Homo sapiens: one gene and its partners. The protein of the gene in region 3 purifies or fractionates together with the protein of the main gene of each other region. This does not show direct contact. Each region holds a gene or a part of one and is shown on either strand. Other genes may lie near its edges.

Evidence for each region. Proteins that work in one complex are often made in the same cells at the same time.
Region 1: the proteins of CEP164 (region 3) and RASGRP1 purify together in Homo sapiens (affinity purification with mass spectrometry; one large-scale study listed by BioGRID and IntAct). This does not show direct contact.
Region 2: the proteins of CEP164 (region 3) and NPHP4 purify together in Homo sapiens (affinity purification with western blotting; one study listed by BioGRID). This does not show direct contact.

Annotation. Positions count from the first base shown.
Region 1 is NC_000015.10:38,562,015-38,566,213, forward strand, and holds the start of RASGRP1 (RAS guanyl-releasing protein 1), read right to left. Parts: upstream 2,801-4,199; 5' UTR 2,615-2,800; coding exon 2,580-2,614; intron 1-2,579. UniProt on the Homo sapiens protein: Functions as a calcium- and diacylglycerol (DAG)-regulated nucleotide exchange factor specifically activating Ras through the exchange of bound GDP for GTP. Activates the Erk/MAP kinase cascade.
Region 2 is NC_000001.11:5,873,926-5,877,425, forward strand, and holds part of NPHP4 (nephrocystin-4), read right to left. Parts: intron 3,374-3,500; coding exon 3,168-3,373; intron 2,599-3,167; coding exon of another isoform or gene 2,596-2,598; exon of another isoform or gene 1,190-2,595; intron 1,176-1,189; coding exon 949-1,175; intron 733-948; coding exon 546-732; intron 1-545. UniProt on the Homo sapiens protein: Involved in the organization of apical junctions; the function is proposed to implicate a NPHP1-4-8 module. Does not seem to be strictly required for ciliogenesis. Required for building functional cilia.
Region 3 is NC_000011.10:117,397,354-117,400,853, reverse strand, and holds part of CEP164 (centrosomal protein of 164 kDa), read right to left. Parts: intron 1-3,500. UniProt on the Homo sapiens protein: Plays a role in microtubule organization and/or maintenance for the formation of primary cilia (PC), a microtubule-based structure that protrudes from the surface of epithelial cells. Plays a critical role in G2/M checkpoint and nuclear divisions.

The sequences.
Region 1 (4,199 bases), on a different chromosome or scaffold from region 3:
TAAAAAAGGGTAAATGACATAGCCAAGGTTATAAAACTCATATATAATCAACCTGAGATTTGTACCCAGCACCTCTCTGGCTTTATTCATTTAATAAATATTGACTGTGCCTGGAACTCTGCACATTTCACAACATCAGGATTAGTAGTAGACAATCACAGAGAGGCTGAAAAGGTCAATTCAATTTAAAATGAAAGCAAAATCCTTCAAAAGCATAACTGGTAATGTAAAGGCTGAATCTCAGCCCATATTCCTCTTGCAGGCCCTCAGAACTGTCCTCAGGTCCCTAGAGCTGGACAGACTCTTTATGGTCATTTTCCAAAGCCCCCTTCTACAGTGTGGAGGTCCAGAATCAGAAGAGCAACGTGCCTGGCCACCACTGCAGAGACAGGCTAGAAGCCAGCCCCTTGTGGCCCATGCAGTGCGCCCCAGGTGGGCGCCCTTCCCTTCCTGGAAGCACTAACAACTCTCTACACCTGGGGCTACATAGCCACTGCTGGGATTACTCAGCTTTCTGCCCCAGCTGCTGCCTTTGTCACCATTAAGACCTCCACCAAAGGCAGAGTAGGGGAAAGGTTTTAAAAAAATAAAGTCATTCATTGTAGAAGTCTCCTTCTCTCAGGCCTTCCACAATACTTCTCCCTAGACCTTGGAGAAGAGGCAACTGCAACTAGAGGCTCTATCTACTGACAGAGCTCTTCCTGCTAGGGGTGGAGGGGAGGTGGCTACAGATCCAAGGAAAATTCCATTTTCTTTCTTGGTTGGTGACACTGACCATTCAAGACTCCTAATCCTGCCCTGTTTTCTAATTCTGGTAAAGTTTCCTAGTGTCACCAGTAAGAGAAACCGCTTTGTTTCATAAGTGGATTCTTGAAGGTTGATGCTTTTACCAGAACTAGAAGGGATCAGGGTAAAGTATAGGGTAGTAAAAGGGAAGAAAGGGTGACAAAAGCAATCTGGGAAGTATGGAGCCCAGAGAGACTCAGAGGACTAGGCCATGAGAGAACAGGGAGAAGAGAAAGTACTAAAAGCCAAAGTGCAGCCTCAGAGTTCTAAGAAGATGGGGATTATCTGCACCATAGACTAGGAAACCTGGCTTTCTTGCTGTACAGTCTCTTAACTGGTTGCCTTGTGAAAAATCCTCAAATCGTTCTGCCTTTTCTGGTGAAATGGGAGTAGACAAGGATTTATAAAATGCTCTATTATAGGCAGGTCGAAGGTGTTTTAACAATCCATAGAATGAATGGCCTCTGAGTCTGTAAAGGCATATTTTTTAAAAAAATACAGTAGCCAAATGTTTTCCTGTAAATGAAAAAACCAAAACCCCGAGAGAAACAAATTAACTTGAAGGTGTTTTCCAAGCCTAAAAGTAACCAAAGCCCCATAGGTTTGCTGAAGGAGACCGTCAAAACTCTAAACTGGTTTAGGTGAAATCCTCTCCAGGCATAGGTATCTCAGTGGAGGTCAGTTTCAGGCTGAGCTTTTTATGAAATCCGCCTAGAAAAGTAAGAGATGAAATGGAGCAAGGGAACTGGAACTTCCACAACTTTCTTTGCAGTGGAAGGTGACTCTCTTGACTTCTAGTATGGATTCCTTCCAGTCCCGTCCTCTTCCCCTTACAATACTCAATTTAATGTACTGAACTCCTCCTTCTGAATCTAGTGCAAAGTACAGTGGTGGACCCTCAGGGGATACCTGGATGGGGAGAGGCAGGGCGTGCATACAGGGCCAAGAATCCTTCGTTCCTGGGATTATAAGCACGGGAAGTCCAGCATCGCAAGCTTCCTGCCGCTACTGGGTATGGTGGTGCAAGGCACAGTCCCATCAGTGTCGATGTGAATGGAGTTGTGAAGTGCACAACTTGTCCAGCCCCTACGCCGAGGCCAGGCCTTTGTTCATGCAGTTGCCTAGTTCTGGTCCTTTGGCTACAAACTCAAAGCTGCCTGGCCAAGAGCCCTTTCACTCACTGTCCCTCTTTCTTCAACTTCTGTTATCCAAGACCCTCTATAGAATCATAGTGAGGGGGAGAGGAGTGCAGCTTCCCATACGGAAGGCGATATGTTTCCCTGACCCACGGATCTGGAAACTTCCGTGGGGCAGGGGCAACCGAGGGGTGCCACCTCTGCGGGCTCCCTGCAAGCTCCTCGGCCGTTCTGGGCAGGGCCGGGAGGGGCCACCAGGTGGCGCAGCCGGAGCCCAGCGCCCCAGCAGGTGCGGGCAGCGCGGAAAGTCCGCGAGTGGGAGTCCCGATGCCGGGCGTGGAGATGTGGGGGAGGAAGTCGGCGGGCGGGCGCCGGCTCCGCGAAGAGCTTCGGCCCTAGCAGATCTCACCGGACGAGCTCTGGCCTCGCGGCCGCCCCTCTACCACCCCTCAGCCCCAGCTCCCTCCCCGAAACCCCGGGCGCAGCGCGCCGGGCGTTCTGGACACGTCCGCCCGTCGCGCTGGTGTCCCGGGACTCCGGCCGACCCCGGCCCCCCTCCGCCCTCAACTTCCCTCGGGGTGTTGGGGCGACGGGCAGGGGCCTCTTTCCCAAGAAAGGACACAGGCGCTCCCGAGGGCCACGGCCGCCTCTACTCACCGCGGAGCCTCTCTCGCCTTGCCCAGGGTGCCCATGGCCGCGGCCCGCGCTCCCGGTGCCGGCTCACCTAGCGCGGCCGGGCGCGGCGCATCGCCCCCGCCACCACCGCCGCCGCCTGCCGGCTCTCTCCCCCCCGGGCCTCGTAGCCCCGGCGCCCGCCAGCCCTCGAGCCCGGCGAGCCCGACCGAGGTGCACCGCAGGCACAAACTTTGTGCGAGCGCGCCCCCTCTGCCTCGCGCGCGCGCTCACACCCGCCTGGCAACCACCTGACACGCTGATGCTGGCGGCTGCAGGAAACGTGCGGCGCCCCGCCGCTCTTCCCCGAAACCTGCCCCCTTTCCGCGGGTGCCCCGGCCTGCGCCTCGCGCGGTTCTCTCACCCCTGCCCGCCTTCGACCTCTCTTGGCCAAAGGGTTAAGTCTCAGGGGAGTTGGAGAGGAGCGGGCTCCCGGCTACCACGCCCGCGCCTTGCAGGGCACCTGTGCCCGTCGACCTCCACCTCAGCTCGGGAAACGGGCTGCGCCTAGCGGCTCCCATGGGACCCCCTTTCCCGCAGCCGACCCGCAGCTTCCACGCCTCTTCCTGCGGCCGCTGCTCGGAGCACTGCAGTGAGGACGCCTTCTCCCCTCCAGGGCCTCTCCTGTATATATCAGAGCGCGGAGTCCGGCAGGGGAAAGGAACGGAAAGACAGTTGTGAAGTTGCCTTAACCTGTGCCCTGGGGTCTCTAGGTAGCCGTCTGCAGGACTGGGCCGTAGACATGTGCCCTGTGCCCTGCGCCCTGCACCTTGGACGAGGGCTGCCTGTGTGGAGGTGCGCTCCACAGGCGTGATCCATATCTGGCCCAGACGCGGCCGCCTGGCGTCGGTGGGTGTAGGAGATGTGGGGACAACTTTCATACAACGTCAGTGCGCACAGAAGACCTGGCCAAGAGGGGCGGCCCATCCGCTGCTTGTCCAGGTGATAGTGCTGATAATCTCAATAGCTAATGATTGAGTGCGGTTGTGCTAAGTGCTTTCTATACATTACCTCATTTAATCCACTCTCCCTGATACAAAGAGATCACTGTTGTAAAGATGAGAAAATGAAGGTTTAGAGAATGCTATGCCTTAGATCATACAACTAATAAACAGCAGAGAGACCTCTGACTTGGACTGAGGTCTGTCTGACTCCCTGTAATCACTGCTGGACTGCCCTAATAACACACTCATTATCACGGCCACAGACCATAACTCTAGCCACAGTCATAGTTGTCTTCCTGGCCATAGTGTTCTGGACTTTAAAGCCTTCCTCTGTTTCATTTATATATTTCCTTATATTTATATGCTACCTTGTCCTTAAAACAGAATTCGAGATAGCTTACAAGAGCACATAACCTACAAAAAGAAGTGTGTGAAATGAAAAATGAGGCACACAAGATGGAGCCAAAAATGAACATCATTTGAAATAAATGCATCTCATAGAGTCAAATACCCTTGCTACAGGTGGGACCAAAATTTGTCTCCTGCATTTCTAGCAGTCAAGTTTAAAGAGAGGCCTTGTCTAAAGTTCAATTCCTATCACATGCAAGACCAAAAACAAAATTGCTCAAGAGAAGATCCCCCTTTCTTGATACTGAGACCA
Region 2 (3,500 bases), on a different chromosome or scaffold from region 3:
CTCACACACACCCTGCATACATGCCTCCTGCACACACACCTCACATATCGCCCCTGCACACACACCTCACATACATCCTGCACACATACCTCTTGCACATATACCTGCTGCACGCACGCTCCCTGCACACATGCTCCCTGCACGCATGCTCCCCGCACACATGCCTGCAAAGCTGCATCTTGCATAGAGCAGACAGTGCTGCAGTCGGAAGGGACCAAACAACATTAACTGGAAAGAAGATGCTAGAAAACGTCAATCCATTAGATTCACTGGGCTTTAAGAAGCCCTTCCAACCAACTTAGTAAAGAAAATTAGGAGGAGATGGTCCAGCTCGACACCCATCAGGCTGGAAAAGAGAAGGGGCTGGTTGCCACTTGCAGTGTACATGCCAGGGCTCTTGTTGAGCACCAAGGGGAGTGGGCGGCAGCCCCAAGGCTAGTCTGTCTGCACAGGTAAGGGAGGGACACTGGTGGAGACTGGAAGCATTCTCAATTTCCCACCGTCATCAGCCAAATGCAACTTCCCTGTGTGCCTGACACCCGCACCTGCACCATGGCCAGCTGCCCTGCAGAGAAGCTCTGGAACTTGAAGGGGACGTGGGCGGTCTCGTGGGGGCGCAGGTAGAGCTGGGGGGCCAGGCTGCCACGCAGGTGGAACATGTCCTCCTCCACCGGTGTGTGCAGGCCAGCAGCACCCTTGAAGTCCCTCCACTCCTGACTGTCCACGATGACGCTGGGGGAGGCAGTGTCCAGGCGTCAGGGCAGTTCTTCCCAGGAGGACCCACAGGAGGCTGCGGTCCCACCCACCGAGAGCGGTGCTCAGAGGAGTGGGAGAGAGAAGTCAAATCGCCCCGGCTCTCGGGCAGAATTCGAGCCAGCTCAGCAGGGGTGCCGGCTGCACCCGACACAGATCTGGGCTGGGGCAGGACGGGCACCACTGAGACCTCACCTGAGCTCGGGGTTGTCGATCTCCACAGTCACCGTGTGCTGTGTGTTGTGGGGGTTCTTAAGCACAAACTCAAAGAACTCGGCGACCCCCAGCGTGGCGTGGAGCGTGTGCTCCGTGGTGATGGCCAGGCTCAGCAGGCTGGCGATGCTCTCGGCCTTCGTGCGTTCCCGGTAGGCGGCGATGACCTGTAGGTCCCGCAAGTGCTGTGTGCGGACGCTCTGCTGCGCCTGCAGACAAGAGGACATGGGTGGACAGGGTCCCAGGCACACTCTCCTCCACAAGGGGCTATTGCTGGCTGCCCACCACCCGCGATCTCAGAAGAGGACATTTCTCCACAAGCATCGCCACCACCACCCCCTTCCTTGACCATGTGGTCTGGGTGGAACTGGCCGGCCCCGCCCAGGCATGGATCTCAGGCAGTGCTGGACAGAGATCTGCTGGCTGTGTCCCTGACACGGAGGTCCACACAGCATCCCTGCCTATTCCTGAGAGACTCTTCACAGACACGAGTCTGGCCCCCCGCACGGTGGAGAATCAGAAGTTTCAAACAAGAGAAAAGAATGGCCTCAAAACTATGGTGACAGGCCTCACCAGCCAGGTCCCCAACACAACTTTGGGAGCCCTGCCTGGGCCCAGCGTCCACAGGAGAGGACATGCCCCCGGCCTGCTGAGTCTCGGTCACACCGGGTCAGAGTCCAGGCAAGCAGCACGCTGCCTCAGCAAGGCTCAGCCACCCCCTTGCTCTGATGCCGCAGGGACTCAAGGGGCTTGGCCAGCACACATGGGTTCTACAGGTTGGAGACTGGCCTGTTTTTCCTGTGGGACTTACAAGAAAAAGTAAGGCCCACTAGAGGCTGCCTTGCAAGATCTCAGGCCTGGAAGGGGCCACCCCCATGCCGGGGAGTCAGCCAGCCTGCAGCTACTCCAAGAAGCCGCTGCGGCCGGGCGCTGGGAACCTTCTGTCTAACACAGAGGAGGCTGAGGCGTCAGAGAGATGGGCTGACTTCAGTGCTTTCAGGATTTAACTCAAAAGGTGAGGACAAAATTTGATTTCTGGCTTAAATGACTTTGGACATTCACTTTCCAACATCCAAGGCTCTGGCTGTTCCTTTGCAGGGGGATTGGAGCTGGCCTTTCACACTTGGGGCCTCCATCAGAATTTCATCCTCAGAGCTTTTCAGGAGTGGAACCTCTGACAGGCTGTGCTGGACGATGGGGCCAGACATGAGTTAGGATGAGAAACAGGGATAGGGCTGAGAGTGGCTCCTCAATTCCAAGCTTATGCTGACAGAGCTAAGGTTATCCAGGCTAGGGGCCTCCAGAGGCCACAGCTTCAAGCCCTGCCAGCTGGGAGGGAGGGAGGAAGGGAGGGAGGGAGGTGGGGTGGGTGTCCTGAGGCCTGGGAGGAGGCCCCAGTCATGCCCTGGCCCTGCCCTGGCCTCCCTCTAGTCCCTCCCTCCTCCCTGACCACTGAGCCCACCAGTCCTGTGGGATCAGGCCAGGCCTCCTCACCCCGTGTCTTCTCACCATGCCTCTTCCTCGCCCCATCAGACTGAACTGAGCCTAGGGAGGGACCGAGGCGTCTGCATCCACCTTTGAGCACCAACGCCTTGCTGGCAGGGAGGCTGAGTGGCAGCCCTGCTGAGTTTACTGTCAGGAAAAGGGCCACCTCTGTTCAGACCCCGGCCTACCTACATGCAAGGGGGAATCTCAGGAGATCTTTCTCAAGGCCCCTGTGGTTCCCGACTTCTATGAACCCAGGAGGTACAACCATTCTCACCTCCCATTTCTTAGTAGCAAAATATTAAAAGTTCTATTTAGATTTTCAGCCAAAAAGGGGAATTTTTCTAGCCAGAATGATTACATTGACAACCCAGGATATGTCAGTTGTTCACAGCTCTGGTCCCCAGACCTGGGAGAGCCTCAGAATCACCTGCAAAGCTTTCTTCAAACCCAGGCTCCAGGGGTCCTGCCCACACCAATCAGTATCAGAATCTCCAGGGGTGACGCCCAAGAACTGGCTTTTATTAAAAGCTCTCCAGATAATTCTCACTTAAAGATTTCCCCCGGTGGCTGAAAAAGTCCGATTTTCTTATATTCTGTCCCCAGGATTTGGGAGGAAGGTAAGAGAGAATCATGTGGGAGGCAGGGAAAGGATGTGCACAGTGACTCAGTCTGCATGGAGATCCCAGGACAGTGACAGCTGAACAAACCCTTACCAACACGCTCGTCCCGCGCCGGCCCAAGTCTCCCCCGGCCTCCTGCAGGCGCACAGACCTCATCCGCTCCAGCTTACGCCTGCGGGTGGCATCCGACTCGCGGCTGACGTCCTGGGGCCCCTTGCCCTGCCGGGCATGGGTCAGTAGCATGGCAGCCAGCTCACTGTCCACGTCCGCCAGCTTCTGTGCTTGCACCACGTGTTTTCCTGCGAAAGGGTCAGAGCGCGAGTCAGGTAGACGTGCAGTGTCTGCCTTCCAGGAGCAGACACCAGGGCAGGCCTCCCAGGACCACCTATATAGGGAGGGAGCTCAAGAGTGCGGCTCATGCTTTTT
Region 3 (3,500 bases):
GCAAAGTCTCAGGATACAAAATCAATGTGCAAAAATTATAAGCATTCCTATACACCAATAATAGGCAAACGGAGAGCCAAAGCATGAGTGAACTCCCATTCACAGTTGCTACAAAGAGAATAAAATACCTAGGAATCCAACTTACAAGGGATGTGAAGGACCTCTTCAAGGGGAACTACAAACCACTGCTCAAGGAAGTAAGAGAGGACAAAAACAAATGGAAAAACATTCCATGCTCATGGATACGAAGAATCAATATTGTGAAAATGACCATACTGCCCAAAGTAATTTACAGATTCAATGCTATCCCCATCAAGCTACCATTGACTTTCTTCACAGAATTAGAAAAAACTACTTCAACTTTCATATGGAACCAAAAAAGAGCCTGTATAGCCAAGACAATCCTAAGCAAAAAGAACAAAGCTGGAGGCATCATACTACCTGACTTCAAATGATACTACAAGGCTACAGTAACCAAAACAGCATGGTACTGGTACCAAAACAGATATATAAGCCAATAGAACAGAACAGAGGCCTCAGAAATAGCGCCACACATCTACAACCATTTGATCTTTGACAAACCTGACAAAAACAAGAAATGGGGAAAGGATTCCCTATTTAATAAATGATGTTGTGAAAACTGACTAGCCATATGCAGAAAACTGAAACTGGACCCCTTCCTTACACCTTATACAAAAATTAATTCGAGATGGATTAAAGACTTAAATGTAAGACCTAAAACCATAAAAACTCTAGAAGGAAACCTAGGCAATACCATTCAGGATATAGGCATGGACAAAGACTTCATGACTACACACCAAAAGCAATGGCAACAAAAGCCAAAATTGACAAATGAGATCTAATTAAACTAAAGAGCTTCTGCACAGCAAAAGAAACTACCATCAGAGTGAACAGGCAACCTACAGAATGGGAGAAAATTTTTGCAATCTACCCATCTGACAAAGGGCTAATATCCAGAATCTACAAAGAACTTAAACAAATTTACAAGAAAAAAACAAACAACCTCATCAAAAAGTGGGCAAAGGATATGAACAGACACTTCTCAAAAGAAGACATTTACGCAGCCAACAAACACATAAAAAAAAAGCTCATCATCACTGGTCATTAGAGAACTGCAAATCAAAACCACAATGAGATACCATCTCACATTGGTTAGAATGGCAATCATTAAATAGTCAGGAAACAACAGGTGCTGGGAGAGGATGTGGAGAAATAGGAATGCTTTTGCACTGTTGGTGTAAGCATAAATTAGTTCAACCACTGTGGAAGACAGTGTGGTGATGCCTCAAGGATCTAGAACCAGAAATACCATTTGACCCAGCAATTCCATTACTGGGTATATACCCAAAGGATTATAAACCATTCTATTATAAAGACACATGCACACATATGTTTATTGCAGCACTGTTCACAATAGCAAAGACTTGGAACCAACCCAAATGCCCATCAATGATAGACTGGATAAAGAAAATGTGGCACATATACACCATGGAATACTATGCAGCCATAAAAAAGGATGAGTTCATGTCCTTTGTAGGGACATGGATGAAGCTGGAAACTATCATTCTCAGCAAACTAACACAGGAACAGAAAATCAAACACTGCATGTTCTCACTCATAAGTGGGAGTTGAACAATGAGAACACATGGAAACAGGGAAGGAAACATCACACACCGGGGCCTGTCAGGGTTGGGGGCTAGGGGAGGGATAGCATTAGGAGAAATACCTAATGCAGATGACCGGTTGTTGGGTGCAGCAAACCACCATGACACGTATATACCTATGTAACAAACCTGCATGGTCTGCACATGTATCCCAGAACTTAAAGTATAATTAAAAAATAAAAAGAAAGAAAAGAAAAACCCATTTTTTGAGGAGAAATTCAAGCTAGCTGCAAAAATTTTCATATGTAACAAGGAGCAGAATCTCCAAGACAATGGGGAAAATATCTCCAGGACATGTCATAGGTCTTCATGGGCAGCCCCTCCCATCACAGACCCAGAGGCCTAGGAGGAAAAAATGGTTTCGTGGGCCAGGCCCAGGGTCCCCATGCTGTGTGCAGCCTAGGGACTTGGTGCCCTGCATCCCAGCCACTCCAGCCATTGCTAAAAGGGGGCAAGGTACAGCTTGGCCCATGGTTTCAGAGGATGCAAGCCCCATACCTTGGCAACTTCCATGTGGTGTTGAGCCTGCGGCTGCACAGAAGTCAAGAACTAAGGTCTGGGAACCTCCGCCTAGATTTCAGAAGATGTATGGAAACACCTAGATGCCCAGAAAAAAGTCTGCTACAGGGGTGGGGCCCTCATGGAGAACTTCTGCTAGGGCAGTTCAGAAGGGACATGTGGGGTCAGAGCCCCCACACAAAGTCCCTACTGGGGCACTGCCTAATAGAGCTGTGAGAAGAGGGCCACCGTCCTCCAGACCCCCAGAATGGTAGATCCGTCAATAGCTTGCACTATGCACCTCAAAAAGCCGCAGATACTCAATGCCAGCCTCGGAAGGCAGCTGGGAAGGGTTTGCCTTCTGGCTGCATTGCTGTACCCTGCAAAGCCACAGGGGCGGAGCTGCCCAAGACAATGAGAACCTACCTCTTGCATCAGCGTAACCTGGATGTGAGACATGGAGTCAAAGGAGATCATTTTGGAGCTTTAAAATTTGACTGCCCCACTGGATTTCAGACTTGCATGGGCCCTGTAACCCCTTTGTTTTGGCCAATTTCTCCCATTTGGAATGGCTGTATTTACCCAATGCCTGTATCCCCACTGTATCTAGAAAGTCAGTAGCTTGTTTTTTATTTTACAGGCTCATAGGCAGAAGGGACTTGCCTTGTCTCAGATGAGACTCTGGACTGTGGACTTTTGGGTTAATGCTGAAATGAGTTAAGACTTTGAGGACTGTTGGGAAGGCATGATTGGTTTTGAAATGTGAGGACATGAGATATGGAGGGGCAAGGGGTGGAATGATATGGTTTGGCTCTGTGTCCCCACCAAAATCTCATCTTGAATTGTACTCCCATAATTTCCACGTGTTGTGGGAGGGACCTGGTGGGAGATAATTTGAATCACAGGGGCCATTTCCCCCATACTGTTCTCGTGATAGTGAATAAGTCTCCCGAGATCCTGATGGGTTTATGATGGGTTTCTGCTTTTGCTTGTTCCTCATTTTCTCTTGCTGCCACCATGTAAGAAGTGCCTTTCGCCTCCTGCCATGATTCTGAGGCCTCCCCAGCCATGTGGAACTGTAAGTTCAATTTTCTTTTTCTTCCCAGTTTCAGGTATGTCTTTATCAGCAGCATGAAAATGGACTAATAGTGTTATCATGAGGTTTAAATTATTTACTACTAGAAAAGGTGTTTGCATACTATGCATTGCCAAGTAAATATAAGTGACCCAGGGCCAAGGTGGCCACTCTCATGGAGTCCCGAGAATGACCAACTGAGGGGGAGCCCAAAGGACTGTTTTGCTGACTCCCCCCGCCTC